Homo sapiens: one gene and its partner. The protein of the gene in region 2 interacts with the protein of the main gene of each other region in a pairwise test. Each region holds a gene or a part of one and is shown on either strand. Other genes may lie near its edges.

What was found.
Region 1: the proteins of ZNF646 (region 2) and PRKG1 interact in binary tests that used the Homo sapiens proteins (3 or more experiments, as listed by UniProt).

Annotation. Positions count from the first base shown.
Region 1 is NC_000010.11:51,067,968-51,080,016, reverse strand, and holds the start of PRKG1 (cGMP-dependent protein kinase 1), read right to left. Parts: upstream 5,531-12,049; 5' UTR 5,427-5,530; coding exon 5,116-5,426; exon of another isoform or gene 4,905-5,115; coding exon of another isoform or gene 4,897-4,904; intron 1-4,896. UniProt on the Homo sapiens protein: Serine/threonine protein kinase that acts as a key mediator of the nitric oxide (NO)/cGMP signaling pathway. GMP binding activates PRKG1, which phosphorylates serines and threonines on many cellular proteins.
Region 2 is NC_000016.10:31,067,310-31,078,911, reverse strand, and holds the start of ZNF646 (zinc finger protein 646), read right to left. Parts: upstream 4,491-11,602; 5' UTR 4,281-4,490; exon of another isoform or gene 4,151-4,280; intron 2,667-4,150; 5' UTR 2,588-2,666; coding exon 1-2,587. UniProt on the Homo sapiens protein: May be involved in transcriptional regulation.

The DNA of each region.
Region 1 (12,049 bases), on a different chromosome or scaffold from region 2:
GAAAAACAACTTCAGGTTCAATTCTCATTGATGTTCAGTTTGCCTAGGTATGTGAGGAATCTGCAGTGCTAGTCTGTGGCATCAAGTTAGATTACTTTCAATGAGAACATTTGGAAGTGAGTGGAAAAAGGAACTTGGAACTTGGTTTCTTTAAGACTTCTAATCATCTGCTGTTTGCTTCAATTAACTACTCTTACCTAGTTATATAGTTACGACTATTAACAGGACTGTGATGGTGGGGGTAAGAAAGCTGAACTGATATTCTGGCATTCAGAACTGCATTAGTGGGTAACTATTAGTCCTTGGTGTAAAACACACACACACACACACACACACAAATGAGCCTTAGCTATTCTAAAACCCAAAAGAATGCCCTCTCGCCTACTTTATCAAATCATAGAAACCAAGATTCTCATTCTCACTGGCCTAAACTTGCTTTTCCACAGTTCCCACTACAGTACTTTAGCACAGCCACTAGTTGCTCCCAATTCCCAGAGGGGCCCTGCTTTCTTTTTCTGTGCTGTCACTTTGCTAATGGCTTGGAATGTATTTCCCCAATCCCTATCTCTATCCCTCCCTCTTTCCTCTCATTTCCACTCACCTAAATCATAGCCCTTCTTCAAATACTTACTTTAAACCCTTCTACTTCCACATGAGTTTCTGACACCATAAAACCAAACAGGCTTGATTATATTTTGCCAACTCTCTTAGTTATCTCCCCTGTGACTTACCTTACTCTATCTACTTTCTAGAATATTTACTTGTGCAGTATTGTTAACCCCTTGTTCACTCCTGGATGGTAGGACCTATGTAGCTCTTACCTCTAATGCCTTACAATATTTTGCATGTCACAGGCAATCCCATAGAAGTATTGAACTGAGATGTAGGGCACTTTTGGAATTAAATTTCTACCTTTCAAGCCATCTATGTTTTAATATTATGCCATCTATGATTACACTAGAATTCTAGAATTCTCTCAACTTCCAACAGAATTTAATATACAGTCTTTAGGAACATTTTGTTTTTCTTGAGATATATCAGTATAAAGTTTAAAAGATTAAATAATCTCTTAAAATGAATGCCTCCTTAAAAATAAAAATAGGCCGGGTGCGGTGGCTCACACCTGTAATCCCAGCATTTTGGGAGGCCAAGGCAGGCGGATCATGAGGTCAGGAGATCAAGACCATCCTGGTAACACTGTGAAACCCCGTCTCTACTGAAAATACAAAAAAATTAGCCGGGCGTGGTGGCTGGCGCCTGTAGTCCCAGCTACTCAGGAGGCTGAGGCAAGAGAATGGTGTGAACCCGGGAGGCAGAGCTTGCAGTGAGCTGAGATGGCACCACTGCACTCCAGCCTGGGCGATAGAGCGAGACTCCGTCTCAATAAATAAATAAATAAATAAATAAATAAATAAATAAATAAATATAAATAAATATTTTTATCCTCAACTCCTCCAAAGTACTTCGCAATGAAAAAGTGAAACAGGGGCCAGGTGTGGTGGCTCACATCTGTAATCTCAGCACTTTTGGAGGCCCAGGTGGGCTGATAACCTGAGTTCAGGAGTTCAAGATCAGCCTGGCCAAAATGGCGAAACCCCATCTCTACTAAAAAAAAAAAAAAAAAAAAAAAATAGCCAGGCATTGGTGGCACGTGCCTGTAATCCCAGCCACTCAGGAGGCTGCGATGGGAGAGTTGCTTGAACCCTGGAGGCGGAGGTTACAGTGAGCCAAGATCGTGCCACTGCACTCCATCCTGGGTGACAGAGTGAGACTCTGTCTCAACAACAACAACAAAGGAAAAAGAAAGGAAACAAAATAGAACATGGAGTGAAAGCAACAGCTTACAAAAATACAAAGACACTAACCACTTTTAGGAACTCAAGTCTATATAATCCAACTGAAATGACTGAAACCCTGTGACATGAAAATGGAAAAGATTTGGGAATATTTTCAAAAGATAAGGGGTTTAGATCAAAATTTCAGAGACTGAATGTTCTAACATGATATAGAATCAATTTCAGGAATGAAACTTCATGAAATAAAATTACTTAAGTCCATAAGAACTATTCTATATAGGCAATCAACAGGCTATCTGATCTCACATAATGAATGCTTAGGTTTTGTTTTTCATTTTAAGGGTTTATTTGCTCAGTTTATTTCCAAATATAGTTTAGTAGTTTTACATTCTCAAGGAGTTATTTGGTAGCAGTGGAATACAGATTCCAATTTGCTACATCAGTTCTTTCCTTCACATAAGTATTGTATCTATACAGATTGTGAAAGAGACCAATAAAAACCCTCCTCCTACCTCATAGTTATAGCAGGAGTGTCCTGGCTCAGTGCTGGAATCTGACAGAACCTTCCCTCCAATTCCCACATTAAAGGAAAAATTCCAAGCCAAAAATGTTAAAATGATTCAAGTTATTAAGTTAATTTACATTTTATACTATTTTTAAATGACCAAATTTACCAAGAAACCAGAACTAAAAAAAATTATAATCCTCAGAAGGCAACCTTAGTAAGTAAAAACTAAACAGATATATTTGCATATATCAGATAAATGAACAGAACATTAGCGGGGCAGTTACCTACATCTAAAAAAAAGAGAATCAAAAACTAGCATGAACGTAAACTGGAAATTAATGTGTCTATTTAGATAGTTTCATTTTAACTGGAAACTCACAATAATCTATATGTATGTTTAAGAAAGATGGCTACATTTAAGATGTAGTAAAGATGAAATACAAAGACACAAACACTTGTTGCCAGTAAGTCCGTGTAATCAAATTATTCATAGTGAAATACATTGAAAGGCAAACAAGTCTTCTTTGGTTTGGCAGGTTTTCTTAACTCTTTGTGGAGCTACCTTGTACAACCATTCAAACAACATAAGATTTATTCATTTTGCATACAATGTACTTCTTTTTTCCCTAAGAAAGGTACACTTTCTACTACTCAAGCCAATTTTTTTCTAGTTTTCTTTATGTAAGTGTGAAAAAAGAACAGATGTTTTTCCAAAATTATTTAAGCTTGGAAGGCATTCTATCATTTTCCTCAATAAAATACTTCAGAGTCACCCAAAGCATCATGGCAATACCTTAAGAGCTGAGTCCTTTAAAATACAAGTTATTAGTAAGAAATCAGTATCAGGACACACAGTGTTGTTTGATAGATAAAATGTTATTATAATGATAGATAAAATGTTATTATAATGGGATGCTGTAAATTATTTGCCACACCAGCTTTATTTTCCACTCTGGACCTTTTTCGTTTGTTTGTTTTTCAATCTAGATATTCTACAAGTCATGTACAAAGAGGCTTTTAAACTTATCACATTGTATAGCTCATTCCCTACTGCCTAGAATCTTGTAAATCTCTGATGGAATGTGTAACTGGAGTTATCAGCTGGCTTCAACATGCTTCACTATGAAACCTATTAAAGTGGTCTTTTTGTAAAAGCAGAGTTTGCTCTGTGTCACTCAAAAGTCCTGCGGATACAAAAATGAGATCCTATGAAATGTTTAAAGATGCAGAGAGCTGTCTTTGAGTTATTTTTTCATTATGCAAAACTTGGCCCAGGAGAGATGGTCATGTACCTCGTTAGCTAAAACAGTCAGGCATGTCAGGATTGCAAATTAATTTACCAGAGAAAGTTGAAGTTTATTCAGATCACTCAGGTTTCTAAGGCAGATCTAAGTCTGCTGAACTATTAGGGCAATTTGGTAAGGTCAGAATCTCAGAAATGTTTATCCTTATTGTCTCTTTCCAACTCCCTCGCAGAATACAAACTCCTCCCTAAACTAAGCCTGCATGAACAGCAAATGTTCCATGGGAATCAACATGTATAGGTATAACTCTAAGTTTTCAAAAGTAGTAATTGGTACATGCTGTGATTCTCCCCAAAAAACATCCAATAAATACAAATAGAGATAATCAAATATTTACTTTCTCCTTATATTAACTTGTTGTATTTATGAAGTGAAGGGTTTCGATGGACCTTGCATTATTACGTAACACGTGCCATCCAGCCAATGTGATTTCGTTAGTAGTAGAGTAAGCAGCAATATCCTTGGTTTTATCAATTACGTTATTATCTATTAATTTAAAATGCCGTTCTTTTGGGTGCTCTCCCACATTCTGTTAACCTCATGTTCCTGTCGCTTTACTCTCCATATGAACTCTGAGTTGAGTGTTGTATAACAAGTTTCATTAAATTTTTCCCATCCAAGTTATGAAGCCCACTAACATCAGAATTGCACAGTTCCCTAAAAGGCTAGAACAATGCCAGAGTGGTTGCATTAGAAGCCAAGAGTAAGGCAAACAATGGGTCCACGTTTTAAATAAGATAAGTGTGCTTATCTGTATCTGACCCTGGAAACAAGCAACCACCTCTTGGGAGATGGAGATGCTCCATTAGTAACATTATGCACGTTTCTTAAGTAAAATAAGCAATCTTCTCCCTCATATGTTATGAAAAAATATTTCTTCAAAATCAACAGACTAGTCTTCCATTTATGGATTGTAAATGTCATCCAATTCAGGAAATCAAAAATTCTTCCTTTTTCTATGCCTATTTGCTTATGTTTCACACTTTGATGATGACAAGAACGTCAGGTTTGAAGGGTACCAGCGTGAAGCGCCAGCAGGTAGAGAAATCCGGGAGAGCCACAAAAGCATAGAAAGTATGGGTGATCAGACGCATTTCATTTCAAGTCTGATGAGCCTGCATTTAGGATTTTCCAGCTGGGCTGGTTTGCCAGGGCTTTTGGGAGACGGGGGCTTTTTATTTCTTCTCTCACACTCACACACACGGTCGGACACACACCTGGGACGTGTTCAAACTCTACGTACACTAGGTGGCTTATACGAATGTATATGTATATTTAAAAATAATACCTTGACATCTGACAAAGACACGAAGGCAACGTATGTGCAGTGAGTCTGGCTCTGAGAAACGTGCACAGCCCCGCAAGAAGTGCCCGTTAAAATGAAACATTTCTGAGGATGAGGACAGACATGGCAAGCGGGAGGGGCGGGGGCCGACAGACAATACAGAGACCCGCAGCTCCCCATCGCCAGGGCGCCACATGGACCCGGCGCGTCACCCCTGCTTACTGTGGGCTCTTGGGGTAGAAGGGCAGGGTCACATGGCTGAGATCCTGGATGTCGAAGGCGGTGGGCTCGGCGGAGATCGCCTGCCGCTTGGTGCGCGGCTCGCCCTGCAAGGTGCTCGCGCTCTGCTTCTGCGCCTGCTGGGTGGCTGGTCGGATCACCGAGCGGTACTTGTCCAGCTCGTTCTGCAGCTTCTGGATCAGTTCGTCCTTCTGATCCAACTCCAGCTCCAGCTCGTCGATGAGAGCATCCCGCTGCCTCAGCTCCTCGATCTTCTCCTGGAGCGCGTACTGTAAATCCCGCAAGGTGCCCATGCTCCTCCGGGCTGCCGGGGGCTCCTTCCTGCCGCTGCTCCGCGTCTTGAGGCTTCCTCCCCTCTCCGATCAACTTTCCCCAAAGTCGCCGCTGCCTCCCGAGTGCCAAAGCTTCCTACTTGAGACCAAAGCCAGCCCTGGCTTCTGAGCATGCCCAGTCCGCCGGCTCCAGCCACCCAGAGTTTCAGTGCAGATTCCACTTCTCTGGGCTGGCTGTGAGGCTCAGAGCGGGGAGAGCAAACCAGCAGGTCCAACCCGGGATTAAACCTGAGACGCGGTGGGCGCCGCGGCGCGGGGGAGAAGAGTCGGAGGCGCGGTGGCGGGGGAGCGGGAGGAGGGGACGTGAATGGGGGCTCCGAGGCAGCGGCTGGGCTCTCAGAGTCCCTCGCGCCGGGCGCCCAAGGAAGCTTGCGGGGCGTGCGGGGAGCCTGATAAGCCTCCGAGGCGCGCCGGGGGTGTGCGGGTGGAGCGAGGCGGGAGCGCTACTTCGGGGGTGGGGAGGTGGGAGGGAGGGGACAGGGAGGACCCCGGGCAAACTCGGGAGGCCTCAGCTGACTCCAGAGCAGACCAGCCTGGAGAATGTTGAGCTACGATCCTAGCGACGTACGAGGCATAGGGGACTCTGCATCATCAAAGCTCTGAGTTCTGGAGGTATTTTGACGGCCGGCCTCACTAAGGAAAGCTCCCGAGCGGTGTGGCCGAGCTGTCGCTTCTCCCACGCCACCTTTCCCACCCAGAGCGCCTCACACAGGTGGCTAACGCTTGCGAAGAAACTTGCCTCTCAGGAGATGCGAGCGAGTCGGCGCCCGCGAGGAATTCCCCCTTTCAGCCTACTACCTTTGGGAAAGGGTTGTGGGGTAGGGGGTGGGGTTTCCGATTTTAGCACCCGAGGCGTTGCTACTCTTCGCCTGCTCCAGATAGTTACTTTCCTTTCTGCCCCTTCCAAACTCTCATCGGGGAACTGTTTTAGGGCAAAGGCCAAAAACGGATTTGGGCCCTAGCAGGTCACTCAGCTTCCCCATGAGCCCTCCGCCTTGAGCTGGTGCCTGGGAATAGTTCTCGGATGGGCCTTGCTTCTTCCATTTGCTGAATTTGGCGGGGAGAGGGTGGGGGTTAAAAATCATTCCCGAGCTCCAAAAATTTCATCTTGAAACTGAATCATACCTTTAAAAATATTACTTTCCTCACAACCAAGCTGTTAGGAATGTATCTTTCCACTTGAATGGCCAGGAAGACATCCTGACACAAACTTTGAAGAAGAGGGAAAATCGTGAAGGAGCGAGGGAGACCACGCAGGCTGCAGTGAATTGTACACTATACTGCAGTCACCCCCACCTCTACCCACTCCCACCCTCATCCCTGCCCACTCAATATTCCCCAAAATGATCACAATTAGGTAACTTCCTTTCTATCCAAGTGTTACACTCCCATCATGGGAACACATGTTTAGAATCCCCAAATATCTGCCTAATACGTACCTAAATCCCTAATATTTGCTTAAGACATTACGAACTCATCCAATTTTATAGCATCTTTATTGGCAGATTTTTGATTACTATTCTTGGGCACTCAATATTATAATCCTCAATGCTCTATTTGGTTATTCCTTAACACTAAAACAAAGTGGACAGAAAATAAAATTGAATTGCAATGCAATTCTAAACTTAGCAAAGAATAGTATCAAAATAACTTGCACACTGTTGCTTTTGAATACACAACTTTTTGTATTTAAGCTAGAGACAGAGGAAGGGAGGAAAGGAGGGAGGGAGGTCAAGGTATCTTAACAAGCTTGTTCATTTAAAGTGTCCTTGTTTTTAATTAGAGGACTAAATGACAAAATATATAGTCCTAAATATTCTTTTATGTAGATTATGATCTAGTAATTCTCTTAATGCAGATTACACAAGACACTTCATTTTTCTGCTTTCCAACACAGACTTTCAGAAGTGCATTTATTTCTAAATGTGATATATAAAATGGATCATTCTCAAAACATTTTCTTTTGCAATGAAGAAATGAGCAACTTACAAATATTGAAAATAATAATAGCTCTGAATTACTGTTGTTTTAATTAAAAGTAAACCAAGCAGAAGTACTGTGACTTTGTATAACTCACTGTATTCTAAAAAAGCTTCCATGAAAATTTCCTTCTTCTGGGCAAAAGGCCAAATTCTTATTTAACCTGTGGGAATTCTTTATTTCCATGGGAAAATGTTGAATACAAAATGACTTTTTCCTATAGATCTATTATTGGGGTTCATGAAGCCATGAGTTTATGTCTAAAAATATACCAGATACAATGTATAGAGGACATAATTAGACAACTGCTAAGCTGGGTTCAGAATTCCAGGATTTTCTCTTTGTTTTTTTTTTGTTTGTTTGTGTGTTTGTTTTTGAGACGGAGTTTTGCTCTGGTCACCCAGGCTGAAGTGCAGTGGCGCAATCTCAGCTCCCTGCAACCTCCGCCTCCTGGATTCAAGTGATTCTCCTGCCTCAGCCTCCGGAGTAGCTGGGACTACAGGCACCCGCCACCACGCCGGCTAGTTTTTGTATTTTTAGTAGAGACGGGGTTCACCATGTTGGCCAGGATGTTCTCGATCTCTTGATCTCGTGATCTGCCCGCCTTGGCCTCCAAAAATGCTGGGATTATAGGCATTAGCCACTGTGCCCAGCCATCTCGTTCATTTTTAAAGTGAAAACAAATATTTTAAATACGTTTTTCATTGATGTTTTAGAGTTTATTTAGGGTTTAAATGGGGTTACTTAATGTTTTTGAGCAGCACAAAGAGAGAAGGTTCTTCCTCATTTGTAGAAAGTCTGTCTACATGTACAAAGGAAAATAAAAACTAAAACACTTTCCCCAAAAATAAAAAAACCAAAAATATTTAGGCATTTTGGAAAAAAGTGAGTTTTTTTACACTAAATTATGTAAATACTTATCAGTATTTAAGCTGGCATATCTAAATGCAACTATAGGATGTATACACATTACATTTTCATTTTAAATTTACATCTCATGATATAAAATCTGTTCCAGGATGAATCTGATATTGAGAGTCAGGAATCTGTTATAACAAACACAAATAGAGTAAAAAGCTGAAAAGACATGACTTTTACAATTGACTTTAAAAGGTGTTCAAGGAATAGAATATATTTAGTTATCTCAGGCTGTGTTATTTTTTTAAATTGACTTCCCCTTAAATGCTTTATAATTTCATATGCAAAATCCAGGATTCTAGCCTTTTCTCTTTCATTTTTAAAGTAAAAATAAATATTTTAAGTATGTTTTTCAATGATGCTTTTGACCAGCTGTTTAGATCTTGAGCGACCAGGTTTCCATCTCAACCTTTTGAGTGTTTCCAATATTTTCTTAAACATCTTCTGCGTTGTACTTAGTAAATGCTGGAAATAAACCCTATGTGAAAAATCAAAGTCCTGCAATTACGTCTTAACAGACAAATTATCTTTACTAAGTGTCATGTAGTAAACTTAATTGGCTAAATTACAAGATCAAAGATCAGGCACAAGTCTACTTTCTGCTAATTAGGAAGTGTCTACCTCAGATTCCTTCAGGGATAGAGTAGAGGAGAATGGCTTGATCTGAGCCCTGCCCCACTGCCTATCTGAGATGAAGCTTTGACATTAGATGCTAACAGTTAGAACAATGCAATTTTGAAGGAACTGACTTCATACTCTAGAATTCCAGAAACAACTCACAACCTGTTTTTCAGCAGTCTTCCTTTTTCATAACTTTAATAGAAGCAAAGTTCTACTGGTAGCCAGACCAAACTGTGGCCTGTTGAACTCCAACATGCTCTTTAGTCTTGCACCCAATCCTCATAATTGAGAATAAAAACTGACATGCCTTCCTTAATGGATTCTCAGAATCATTTAATGAGCTATTCCAATAAAGTAGCTTTATTATAATACTGGCTATTCAAAAATAAATCTGTAGAATTTGTCATCCTTCACTAAAAACATAATTAGCCCAAAAGAACTGTGCTAATTTTATCCACTTATCCATTCCACTGACACTGTATTTCCTGGAAGAATCTTAAGTTTTGAAATTTTCTTCTGTCATTTCATGTGTATATCTTGAATGGGAAAAAATAAACAAACAAATATATAGCTGAGCCTTTCAGGAGACAGAAGCTTCCTCTGGCAGAAGATTGCTAAAAGTAACAAGTCCTCCTAGGAATCTAGATTTTAAAGCTATTACTGGCAGACATGACGGTCTGTTCTAAGTTGCTAATCATAATCAAGATCACAAAAAATTAACTAACTTCCTTGACTTCTTAATGCATGATAGGTATTGTTCATACAACCCTATAAGTTCAATATTATTAATATTCTATTAATATTAGAGAAAATGGAGTCACAGAATCATTCACCTAATCAATGGCAAAGACTGGCTTCATATCCAGACTAGGTGATGTAGAGCTGAGGCCCCTACCCCTCATTACTTTCTGCAGAACTTATAAGTGTTGCTACTGTCCTATTCTGTATCCAGAGAGAGAAGAGTGTCTTTAACATCAACTTGCTTGACTTAGGGGTCAGGGAGGTGAAGAGGACAAATTTGGAAAATCCTGAAAGAGCAGCAACAAGGTTTTCAAAAAGTTCCTTTTCACAAAACAGTCCTGTCTTTATTTCAACAAGATTACATTCTGGCTCAGGGTAAGTAACTTGAACCCATTTGCCAGAGATTGTACTAATCCTAAAATTGCTTGAAATTGTCCTGTCTTTAAAACTAAAAGTTCTAAGAATCTTCCAGTCTCGGGCAAACCAGGAGAGTTGGTCACCCTATTCAATTCAAAATATCTGAGCTTCTCTAGTTTATAAATATTTTCAAATTTTGCTTTCCACATTACTGATAGAAAAGTAAAACCAAGGAAGATCTGTAATGATAATACCTATTATTTTAGGCACATTACAAACCCACTTATACATTACTTTGTGTTAATATGTTTTAGGAAAGCAATCATCCTATTGCAATGAATAATAATGCACAACCGGAACTGTCTTTGGACTATAAAGGGGGATGAGTCAGACAATAGAATTTTAATTATACTTTGATAAATTAGACAATAATTCAAGGATCCCTTTTTGCTTTATTGTTTTTACAGAAACTGGAACTTACATTGATTCCCTGTGAATTAAGTACAGGGATTCAAGTGCCTGCTATTTTATTAATTCCTATAGAACTAGTTTTATAATTGTGTTTAGTGGATAGATTTGGCCATAAGGAATATATATTTACATGGATATAAGTAAAAATTGAAATAGTTTGGCTGTTTTCAAGTTATACTATTTCAAATGGTAAGTTCTGCGTAGAAAAGAAAAAAATAATAAACCATTAATGATGAAAAACTTACTGCAGAGACTTGGAAAGTAACAGCGTACTGTACCATAATTGCTAATGTACTTAGCATTTAATACTGAATTAGTGTCATGCTTAATATTAGGTGAAATGAATTTTTATAGTCCCCTTCTTAAGATGACGGGAAGTTATTATTGGGTCTCAGGCTAAACTAGTTCTCATGAAAACTCATGAGCTATCTAACAAAATGAATATTTATTTGTACTCTTTAGTCAGCTGCTCATTTACAATAGCCAAAAGAAAAAAAATCAAGAAAAATATTAGGTTTTTTGTATTTTGAAATAAGTGTAAAATTTTTAAATGCATAAAATAGAATTTAAAATGCTTTATTCACAAGACACCATTTTACTGCATTTGAAGCGTAATGAATATGTACATGAGCATGCAACATACCTGTATGATAAATAAGTTAGAGTTGCTCAGTTCCATTTCAGTGATTCTTCTGGTATATTAAATGTGCATCTTTTACTAAGGTAAATCATCAATATTTTCCACAAAATATTCTAAAGTATTTTTAAAAGTAATTTTGATTCTGAAAACAGATTTGATATTGTGGGGCTTATAGAATAGCTCTCTAGTCCATGATTTGTCTTTTTTGCTGTTGTTTGTATTTTAACTAGTATTTAGCAGTTGATATAACTTGGCCATTTTCTTCTTACAGGTTTTGTAACCAAAATTTAAAGTAAAGAAAACTGAAGTTTTGCTAGCAAACTCTTTAAAAATAATAAGGTAAGAAAATACTAAAGATGTAAGAAGGACAATGAAATAGAAATTTGGGTGAATTGAATTTTTATTAGTAGGTCAAATGACTGCATTGGGCAAGAGAAAGATGTCAAGAAATTTATTTACATTGTGAGAATGTCAGTGATTCAAGGGAGAGGGGGCTTTGCAGGCAAAAAGACATAGTAGGGAAATACATGGAGATCTCCACTCTCATTAACTTAATGGGCATGTAAATATCACCTAGCTTCAAATTAAGGAATCTTCAAATTGTGACTTTTCTATAATCATCATGAGATGGAAATCCAGAAATCCACTTTTCTAACGACAGGCAAATGAAATAGTAGGCTAGTAAAGCAAATGGATATCATTCCAGGGCCAAGATATTGCCACGTATTATTCTTGAAACAAGGGTAGAAGCCCCAGGCTGGGGCCCAGGAGATGCATACATTCACTATGTATTTGTAACTAACTACAACATTATCATTGGCCTTGCCTAATGTAGGTTTTTAGAGAAGATTCAGTA
Region 2 (11,602 bases):
GGGCAGGCAGAGAGTCAAACTCCTTCGGGCAGAGGGAGCACTGATAGATGCCTGGTGGGTGGCAGGGCCTGTGGCTCAGCAGGCCAGTGGCATGGGGGAAAGAATGCCCACAGTCAGAGCATGTGTGAGCGGCCCCAGCCTGCCAGCCAGTGACAGCATTGGCAGAGTGGGAAGAGGAGTTGGGTTGGCCAGTGGCTGGCTTCTGGTCTTCATCCACCCCAGTGAGGCTATCGCAGAAGTGAGTGCCACCACCTTCCTCACCTGGGATGTCCAAGTTGTCAAGTAAACTGGCATCCTTCCTTTCCAGTCCTTCCCCAGTGCCTCCGCTCTCTTTATCACCCTGGAAATGGGTCTCATCCCTCTCAAGCCCACATTTGTCCCCTTCAGATTCAGCCTGCAAACAGTCCCCATCACTTTCCAGGTTGCCTTCAGCCCCATGAGGACTTTCCCCTGAAGGGTCTTGGGGAGACTCCAGGCCTTCATTGTCTTCTAGCTCCCGGGTCCAGCTCTCCGCTGCCAGGAGTTTGGCTTCTCTCCCACCGCTGGCACCGCCAGCCCGCTTCCGATGCCGCCTGCTCCGCCGCCGACTGTGCCGGCGCAAGTGGTTCTTCATGGCAGCCATGGTGTGGAAGTGCTTGGCACAGGCCCCACAACTGAAGTCTCCTGTCTGGTGGGTCTGCCTGTGGTTGATAAGGCTGCCTGAGTGGCGATAGCTCTTTCCACAGTCTCGGCAGGCAAAGGCCCTAGGAGGTGACATTGTGGTCTCTGTTCTGCTATTTTCCTTTTCCCCTGCCCCATGAGTCAGGCCATGACGTTCAAGGCTCTCAGCGTCTTCAAAGAGCAGCCCACAGATGCTACAGATATGTGCTGCTGTCTTGTCTGCTGCTGGGGTGATGTCCGTGGCCTCTTCTTCATGTTTGCACACATGGTCCTGATCTGTGTGCGGGGCTGCCTCTGCCTCCACTGGGTCAGGCGGGAGTTCTACCTTGAGGTGGCTGGGGGCACCCTCAGCCCCGATGTCTGCACTTCGGCGAGCAGCCTTGCAATGTACCCGCACGTGGTTGCGCAGGGCCATGAGATTGGGGTACTTGCGGGGACAGAGTGAGCACTGGTACTCTCCAGTCCGATGGCTGTGGCGATGGTTCACCAGGCTCCCCCGGTGGCGGTAAGCACGACCACACTCACTGCACTTATAGGGCCGATGGTCCAGGGTGGTGGTGGGGTCCTCTTCCTCTTTGTGGGTGGTCTCAGCCAGCAGCAGGGGAGCTGGTGGGACTGATGGCTGCCCATTTTCCCCAACTCCTTGCCTGGGCCTGTGATGAGCCCGCACATGGTTTTTGAGGGCAGCCGCATTGAACAGCTGCTTAGAACAGAGTGAGCAGGGGTAGACACCTGTCTGGTGGCTCTTTCGATGGTTGATGAGGCTCCCAGCATGGCGGTAAGTACGGCCACAGTCCCCACAGCGGAAAGGCCGGTATTCCTCCAGGCCACTGTCCTCCAGCTCCCCAGAGGTGCTGAGCTCCGCAGAGCCATTCAGCATCTGTGCACTGGGGAGCTGGTCCTGGCTGCTCTCATCTGTGTGCCCATTGGTGGTGGGCATCCCTTTCTCCTCCCAGCGTGGCTCCTGCCTTTCACCCTCATGGGACTGCTGGTGTTCCAGCAGCTCCCGGGGGAGCCGGAAGACACGGGGGCAGTGGGGACAGTGGTAAGGCCGATACTGGGCATGCAGTCGAGAGTGGTTCTTCAGAGCCATGAGGTTAGAGAACTCCTTGAAACAGATGGCACAGGGGTAGATGCCCAGCGTGTGGCTCTGGCGGTGGTTGGTGAGGCTCCCGGCGTGCTTGTAGGTCTTGCCACACTGACTACATTTGTACCGCCGCTCCTCCTCAGCAGGAGGGGACTGGGTGGGCTCCTGGCCCCCTGTGAAGTTCACTACTGATTCAGCCAGATACTGTTCCAAGTTGCTAAGAAGGCTGCTGGCTGGGATGGGGAGAGGAGGGGCTCTGGCAGAGTTAGTGGAGGGTCCCCAGCCGTCTGCACCATCCTCAGGACCTGGGTGGCTTGCCAAGCCTTCTCTTTGTCTGGTGGGCAGATCTTCCCACGTACCCGAAGCTGCCCTGGGGTCAGGTACAGATTCACAGTCAGGTGTCTCTTCTGTATGTTTTGTCTGGTTTTCCCAGCCTTCACTAGAGCCAAGCCTTTGGCCCCAGGAGTCAGTGGACACCGTCTCACCCTGGAGGTGTGGAGTGGCTTCCTTGGGGCGTGGGGGCCTGTGCCTGCGGCGGCCCTCAGGAGCATGTGTCCTCATATGGCTCTTGAGAGCCATGGGATTGGAGAAGTCCTTGCCACAGGTGGTACAGGGGAAAAGGCCAGTCTCGTGGGTCCGACGATGGTTAACCAGGCTCCCGGGGTGACGGTAGCCCCGCCCACACTGCTGACAACGGTAGGGCCGAGGGATGCTGTCAGCCTCCTCACTGTCCTGGTTGGGAGATGGATGGAGCAGTTCTCGGTGCCGAGAGAGCTCTGGGAGGCTGGGAAAGTGGCGCTGACAGTCGGAGCAGCTGAGTGAGGGGGGTGTGTCCTCCATGGGGCAACGTAGCAGAAACCTGGAGGTTCAGAAGGAGCAGACACGTGGCAGCACCTTCCTCTGGTGGAGGGGCCAAGGCCTAGGAAGAGGGGGCAGTGGTCAAAAGGAAGGCCTGAATTAACTTCGCCTCTTGGCTCTACGAGCAACAAGTTCACCTGAGGTCACTGAGAGGTTCCCCAAGCATCCATGCCCAAGGACCTAATTTCTACTAGATCCAATCTGCAGGCACCATCATTTAAGGCTTCCCTGTGCACAAGCTTCCCAAATATAGGAGCTCCCCTAGGCTTAAGTCATCCCTACAGGTATAGCTAAGGAAATTAAAGTTGAGAGAGATGCAACCTACTTCTGATCACAGACCTGTTATGTTCTTCAGACCAGACTCAAAAGGCATTACTGTCCTTTAAGAACAGTAGGAATCTGCTCCCTACAATCCTGAAACAAAAATTTTCTGTGACATCTTAAAAGGACACCAAAACCTTCTCTAGGCCTTTCAATAAGAGAAGTCCAAATCTTCCTACTTCATCTCTCAGCTAAACAGAGTAGCTGAGAAGCACTGAAAAAGCAGCTGTTTCCTCCAGTTAATAGCTGAGGACCTGAGAGGAGAGGTTAGAGGCCTCCTTCAGGGAAAGGGCTGGCTTGTTCCCCCACCACCCCGAGTCATTTCAGTGTCACAAGGTCTCTTTTCCTTGTGACAAGAGAGTTAAGAGAGTTAAGACTCTCTTAACTGGGCCAGGTGTGGTGGCTCACGCCTGTAATCCCAGCACTTTGGGAGGCCGAGGCTGGTGGATCACCTGAGTTCAGGAGTTCAAGACCAGCCTGGACAACATGGTGAAACCCTGTCTCTACTAAAAATACAAAAATTAGCCGGGCGTGGTGGTGGGCACCTGTAATTCTAGCTACTCAGGAGGCTGAGGCTGAAGAACTGCTTGAACCTGGGAGGTGGAGGTTGCAGTGAGCTGAGATCCCACCACAGCACTCCAGCCTGGGTGACAGAGCGAGACTCCATCTCAAAAAAACAAAAAACCCCAAAAGACTCTCTTAGCGACTTCTTTTATCTACTTCCCTTGAACTCAAACTATCTTCCATCTTGGGAATAACATCAATACCAGGTTGTAATGTCACTTCATTGCCTACCTTTTCTCTCCCATGCCTCCTGATCTTACCCTCACCAGTCTTTCTCATTTTTTTCTTCTGCCTCCTCTCTTAATACTGATGATGACAGCAACTCATGAAGAGTATTATATTACCATGTGCCAGGCACTGTGCTAACTATATTCATTGTGTTACTCAATCCTCAGAACACACGGCAATGCCTGTTATTCTAGTTCACGTAACAGCAAACCCCCTGACTGAGGCGGTCTTCATCCCAAAGCCCTTGCTCTCTCATGCCCCCTACATCGTCTTGTCCTTCTCCAACTCTGACTCTTCTTCCCATGGGACCCCAGTACAACTGTCTCCGACCGTAAACCCCTTCACTGAACCTGCCCCCGGAATTCTCACCTCACAAAGCCCCTTTGATCAAAAGTCCCCTCCCCTAGTCAACCACCAATGAAGTCCTCTGACCTCACTCATCTCGTCTGCCAATTTCCTCTCAGGACGCCTACCTCGCACCGGCGGCCCCCTCTCCTTCCCGCCGCGGGCGCGTCAGTTGGGGACCGCGAACAAGAGCGCGCCTGCGCACTGGGACCCTTACCCTAACTGCAGCCGCGCGCCCCAAGGGGTGGCTGTCGGGGGGCTCTCGCGCTCCCACACACGCACACTCAGCCAGGGTTCCCGGGAGGTGGGAGGGAAGGGAAAGAGGGAAAGGAGAAGGGGGGAAGAGGAAGGAGGTAGAGAAAAGAGGGCGCAGCTGGCATGAGCCAGGAGTCTACTCCCAGCTCTACGGACACTTCCTATTGTTACTAGGAAACAGGAAGTGTCCTTAGGTGCAAAAGCTTCCCCGCGAAACTTCCGCTTCGGGAGCACTGCCTGTCCCGCCTCCGAGCCGCAGTTTTACGCAGACACACTTCCGGCGCTAAGTTCTAGGTCTGCACGGCTGACTCCGCCCACGTAGGTCACAACGCGGCGTCTTTGCACGCTAAGCTAGCCACACTTCCGGCAAGAGCAGCTAGAATCGTTCCGGTGCATATTGAATAGGCGCAGAAAGGGAGAAAAAGATTCTACAGCCCTGGCCACAGTACTTTGGTGACACTTTTCGTGGGGCTCTCTGGAGGACTTTTCCCAAGGCAGATGGAGAAAACTTCGTGAAACCCACTCCTTGCTATTAAAGGAAATGTTGTGGAATATAATTGGACTTAGGTTTTGCAGAGCTTGAGCATGGCCTTTTTGTCCTCCCACCTTCTGGTTCTTGAAGACATTGCCGGTGACCTGGCCCCAGACTAACACAAGGCGGGCGTATACCGTCAGCCTGCCTGGCGTCCCCTTGCCTCAGCACACACAGAGACCTCTTGCAAGATGCTTCTCTGCCGCCATAGGCTGGAGGTTCCCCGGGAACTTTCCCTTCCTTCCTAGCTGAGGAAGATCCCTCACTTCCGCTCGCCGCGCCACCGGTCCCACCTCCCCGCCCCCCGCTGGGTCCTAGCGCCGGCCCCTGTTTGGCAGGGTCCGGGCTCCGTCGGTGCGAGGAGCCGACGCCGACGCCACGGAGTCAGCACAAGTCTCATCAGGTAGGAAACGTCGGCGGGAAGCCGCGAGGGCCCCGGGCAGCTCCCACGCGGCCACGATCCGAGCTGGCCTCAGTTTCCCTGCGGGCGCCGAGGGCGGGCCGGGTTGGCCCAGCGCGAGCAGCGCGGGCGGGGCGGGCTGTGAGCGGCCCCGGGCGCATTGCGGGCCCAGCAGGTCCTAGAACCCGCCGGCTGTCTCCGCGGTTCTGGGCTGCGGACACCCAGGCTCGGCCCGCGCGGCTGCTGGCCCGGCGCGGTGTGGTCCCGGGGGTCCTAGAGCCCGCCATGTTTTGGGTTTTTGTCCCGGTCGCGTGGCCCGCGCTGCAAGATCCCAGGCGCCGGCGGCCCCCTCCCCTGCTGAGGCCCGGCCACCACTCCCGCGGTCCTAGAGAACGCCATCTTGCAAGCCTTTGTCCCTCATTCGGCCTTCCGTCCATTCATTTGTTCATCTCCTCATCCTTCGTTCAGTCCTCCTTGCCACGTCCTCCGAAGCCACGTTTTCTGAGGCTTATAACCGGGGTCCTGCCCTCCAGGGGCTGCCTGGCTGGCGGGGGCGCCGCGTACAGACGGTTGCGAGGAGCGAGGAGCTCCGGGTTTCTGCAACTCTCGGCTCCTCGGCGCGCTTCGTAGGCCCCACCGCCCTTCAAACTCCCACAAACTTAAGGGACCCCATTTTACTGATGAGGAAACTGAGGTCCAGAGCGGCGTGGGGCCCTTACCTCTCTACTGCCATAAAGTATTCCTGAGGGCACTAGGGAAGGGGGTTCTTGAAGGATGTAAAGGGGCTTTCCCGTTGGAGAAGGCAGGCAAGGGCTCCCCGAGCCCAGGAAACTGCATCTAGAGGTGGAGGATTGAGAATTGTGGCTGGAGGTTCGGTCGCTGCCGGGAGGAGGACTCTGTCGCTGGAGCTGAGGCTGGAAAAGTAGGTTGGGATCAGGTTGTGAACTGGCCCGGTAGGAGGCCTAGGATATGATTAGCGCTCACTTCTGCAGGGTTCATCCGCTCACTACGTCACTCCTGGCCGTGAGGCCTGTGTGGTGACTGCTTGTTTAGAGATGGGAAGATTGAGGTGCCTCCTTTTTCTCCTCATCCCTGCCCCAGGGTCCTAGCCTAGGATTTTTGGAAATTGAATCTTTGCTTGCCTAGTGAGACAGCAGAACTTCATCCCCTTCCTAAGCCAGTAGTGAGGCAAAGCAAGGCTTCATCGCCACGACAGGGAGCCCACTGTGGGATATTGGGGCAATAGTTGAGCCTTGTGGAGTTGGAAAGGTGGAGGAATTTAGTTAATAAACAGTTATTGGTGGACATTCTCACAAACTCCTACTGTGGAGGAGGCAGAGGCTACAGACCTGGGTTCAAATTTCATCTGAGGTTGGTTCTTTCCATTTGTTTTGGGTCACCACACAGGGTTCTGGGTGTAGAGGAGGCAGATGATCGGTTTCCTAGCCCTTTGCCAGCCTGGACTCTGGTGCTGGTGATGAAGAATTAACAGCCAAACCATAAGATGTGTAATGCTAGCAAAGCAATAGTCAGGGCTCAGAGAGCAGGTGTTTGGGATTTGAACACTGGCTGGGACCGTGACTAGTAAGCTTGTTTCTTTGTGGTGTCACTTCTCATAAGAACGCTAATCCTACTGGACCAGGGCCATACCCTTATGACGTCATTCAGCCTTAATTACTTCCATAAAGGCCTTGTCTCCAAATACAGTCACAATGAGAGTTAGAATTTCAATATATGAATGGACAGGGAACACAAACATTCACTCATAATGAACTGCTAGGCAGCTGTGCAGTTGGCTTGAGTAGTTGAGTATTATGCACAAAATGCTTAGAATGATACCTTGCCCATGGTAAGCTTGCAAGGAGTATTGTCCAGATGACACCATAAAGGAAATTAGAGAGGAGGGGTGCTGGTCACTGTGGCTCATGCCTGTAATCACAGCACTTTAGGAAGCCATAGTGGAGGAGCATCTGAAGCCAGGAGTTCTTGAGACCACTGTCGGCAGCGTAGTGAGACCTCCATCTCTATATACAAAGAATTTTTAATAAATTAGCGAGGTGTGGTGGTGGGTGCCTATAGTCCTAGCTACTCAGGAGGATTGCTTGAGTGCAGGAGTTTGAGGCTGAAGTGAGCTATGATTGAGCCACTGCACTCCAGGGTGACAGAGTGAGACCCAATCTCTAAATAAAAATAAAGGCCAGGCACGGTGGCTCACGCCTGTAATCCCAGCACTTTGGGAGGCTGAGGCGGTCGGATCACTTGAGGTCAGGAGTTCGAGACCAGCGTGGCCAATGTGGTGAAACCCTGTCTCTACTAAAAATACAAAAGTTTGCCAGGTGTGATGGCTTTCGCCTGTAGTCCCAGCTACTCGGGAGGCTGAGGCTGGAGAATCACTTGAATCCGGGAGGTGGAGGCTGCAGTGAGCTGAGATGCAGCCACTGCACTCCAGCCTGGGCAACAAAGACTTTCTCTCAAAGAAAATAAATAAATAAAAATGAAATAAATAGGCCGGGCATGGTGGCTCAAGCCTGTAATCCCAGCACTTTGGGAGGCCAAGGTGGGTGGATCACCTGAGGTCAGGAGTTCCAGACCAGCCTAGCCAACATGGCCATCTCTACTAAAAATACAAAAAATTAGCTGGCTGTGGTGGCAGGCACCTGTAATCCCAAATACTTGGGAGGCTGAGGCAGAAGAATTGCTTGAACCCAGGAGGCAGAGGTCGCAGTGAACTGACATCACACCATTGCACTCCAGCCTGGGCAACAGAGGGAGACTCTGTCTCAAATAATAATAACAATAAATAATAAAATAAATAAAAATAAGCCAGGCACGGTGGCTCATGCCTGTAATCCCAGCACTCTGGGAAGCCGAGGCAGTGGATCATCTGAGGTCAGGAGTTCGAGACCAGCCTGGCCAACATGGTGAAACTCCATCTCTACTAAAAATACAAAAAATTAACCAGGCGTGGTGGTGGATGCCTGTAATTCCAGCTACTCGGGAGGCTGAGGCAGGAAAATCTCGTGAACCGGGGAGGCGGAGGTTGGAGTGAGCAGAGATGGTGCCATTGCACTCCAGCCTTGGCAACAAGAGTGAAACTCTGTCTCAAAAATAAATATATAAATAAAAATAAAAACATTTTTTAAAAAGTAAAGAGGGCTGGGTGCGGTGGCTCATGCCTGTAATCCAAGCACTTTGGGAAGCCAAGGTGGGTGGATCACTTGAGGTCAGGAGTTCAAGACCAGCCTGGCCAACATGGTGAAATCCTCTCTCTACTAAAAATACAAAAATGAGCCAGATGTAGTGGCGGGCGCCTATAATTCCAGCTACTCGGGAAGCTGAGGCAGGAGAACCGCTTGAACCCGGGAGGCGGAGGTTGCAGTGAGCAGATATTGTGCCATTGCACTCCAGCCTGGGGGACAGAGTAAGACTCCGTCTCAAAAAAAGGGCCGGGCGCGGTGGCTCACACCTGTAATCCCAGCACTCTGGGAGGCCGAGGCGGGCGGATCACGAGGTCAATAGATCGAGACCATCCTGGCCAACATGGTGAAACCCCATCTCTACTAAAAATACAAAAATTAGCCGGGATTGGGCCGGGTGCAGTGGCTCACGCCTGTAATCCCAGCACTCTGGGAGGCCGAGGCAGGTGGATCACGAGGTCAGGAGATTGAGACCATCCTGGCTAACACAGTGAGACCCTGTCTCTACTAAAAATACAAAAAATTAGCCGGGCGTGGTGGCGGGCACCTGTAGTCCCAGCTACTCAGGAGGCTAAGGCAGGAGAATGGCATGAACCCGGGAGGCGGAGCTTGCAGTGAGCCAGGATTGTGCCACTGCACTCCAGCCTGGGTGACGGAGTGAGACTCCGTCTCAAAAAAAAAAAAAAAAAAAAAATAGCCGGGCGTGGTGGCGGGCACCTGTAGTCCCAGCTACTTAGGAGGCTGAGGCAGGAGAACTGCTTGATAGATAATCATGAGATTCCGTCAAAAAATAATAATAATAATAAAGAGTAGATAGAGAATGATTATCAGGGGTAAAGATAGCATTGAGAAAGGTAGTCATTCAGTGCTCCTTGGTTGGTTAAAAAAGGAAAAAATTTGGAATATTAAAAGGGGGGAAGAAAAGGAAAGGTGGTCAAGAAAGCTCTTTTTGAGGAGGTGACTGGGAGCTGAGATCCAAATAACACCAAAAAAGACAGCTACACAAAGATCGTGGGAGAAGAGTGGCTCAGACAGAGGGAACTGCTAGTGCCACTGCCCTGAGGTGGGAAGGAATTTAGCTCTTTGAGGAGAAGAAAGGAGGCCTCTGTGGGTAGAGCCCAGTGGGCCAGGGAGAGGAGTGGGAGGTGAGGTAGGCAGGTGTGTGTGTGTGTGTGTGTGTGTGTGTGTGTGTGTGTATTTTTAGTAGAGATGGGGTTTCACCATGTTGGCCAGGCTGGTCTCAAACTCCTGGCCTCAAGTGATCTGCCCAGGTAGGCAGGATTTAGATGGTTTGGGGCTATGCTGGCCATGGAAAAGATATTGGTCTTTTTCCTGGGAGCAGTGGGAAGTCTCATGATTCAACCTGGGGGAGAGAATGGAGACTTGGGTTCGAGTCTGGCTCCTTGACCAGCTGTGTGTCCTTGTGTACAGTTTTTCCTTTGTGGGGACCTTAATCTCAATATCTGAAAAAGAGGTGTAGTGAACACTTAAAATGCTCCTCTCCTGAGAGCTCGTGGAGACCTAAGGATGTGTGTTTGGTTCTTAAGTATTGGTTGGGCAGGCACGGTGGCTCACGCCTGTAATCCCAGCACTTTGGGAGGCTGCGGTGGGAGGATCACTTGAGCCCAGGAGTTCTAGACCAGCCCAGGCAACATAGCAAGACTTCATCTCTACTAAAAATAAAATAAAAATTAGCCAGGCATGATGGTGCATGCCTGTAGTCCCAGCTACTTGGGAGGCTGAAGTGGGAGGATTGCTTGAGTCTGGGAAGTCAAGGCTGCAGTAAGCCATGACTGCACCACTGCACTCCAGCCTGAGCGACAGAGTGAGATCTTGTTTCAAAACCAAACAAACAAAAGTATTGGCTGGAATGATCCAGAGTGTATTTAAAATACAGATTCCTGAGGCCTACCTCAAGCTCTTTAATAAAAAAAAAAAAAAAAGTCTGGGCGTGGTGGCTCTCGCCTGTAATCCCAGCACTTTGGGAGGCCGAGGCGGTCGGATCACGAGGTCAGGAGATTGAGACCATCCTGGCTAACACAGTGAAACCCCGTCTCTACTAAAAATACAAAAAACTAGCCAGGTGTGGTGGCAGGTGCCTGTAGTCCCAGCTACTCAGGAGGCGGAGGTTGCAGTGAACCAAGATCGCGCCACTGCACTCCAGCCTGGGCAACAGAGTAAGACTCCATCTCAAAAATTATATATATATATATATATATATATATTTTTTTTTTTTTTTTTTTTAATGGTGGGATGTTAGACAGAGACCTAGCCTACCTGGCCTCTTTGTGTAGCTGGGCGCATGCTGAGACCAACCTGGCACTCCCCTACCTTTTCCCCTGGGAAGTGCCATGGGAGGAGGGATTTCCCCTCCAGCTACCTGGTGTCTAACTCACAGATAGGAAGGCTGAGACCCAGAGCTGGCAAGAGGCAGTAGAAGGGCCAGAGCTCAGAACCACTGGGTCAAGCCCTCTGAGAGGGAAGCAGAGACATAAAGGGTGCCGGCCAGGGTCTCAGGGCAGTTCTGCAAGGATGAGAGAAGACACAGGTATGACCTGAGCTCAGGGTTCTGGTCACTGTGGGGCTGGCGGAGGCAGCAGACAAGCGTAAGAGGCCCCAGACCACTGAGCAAGACCCCAGCAACTTAAGGCAAATTAAACACCTGGACTGAAGTCCCAGCTGCTTAGGTTACCCATTGTGGGACCATGGGCAAGTCACTTAACTCTTGGAACCTCGATTTATTCCTCTGTAAAGTAGGGACAAGAATCCCTATCTCAGAAAGGTATAAGACATTAAATTAAATAAACCAGCACACCCAGCAATGTGTCTGGCTCTAAGAAGACGCTTTGATAATTGAGGACAGTAATTATTTTTGACTCATTCATTCCTCACCCAACTCTGTCAGGTAAGTACTGTCATTATCTCCATTTTTCAGATTAGAAAACTGAGGTTCTAAGACATGCAGTACATTACACACGGTCACATCAGCTGGGAAGTGATGGAGGCAAAATCTGAAGCCAGACAGTTTGGCTTCAGGGACTGGGCACTTAACAAAATACTGAACCATTTCTCTGGACCTTGGTTCCCTTATCTGTGAAAATGGAATAATAGAACTTTCCTCATGGGGTTGCCATGAAGGGTAACTGAGCTAATAC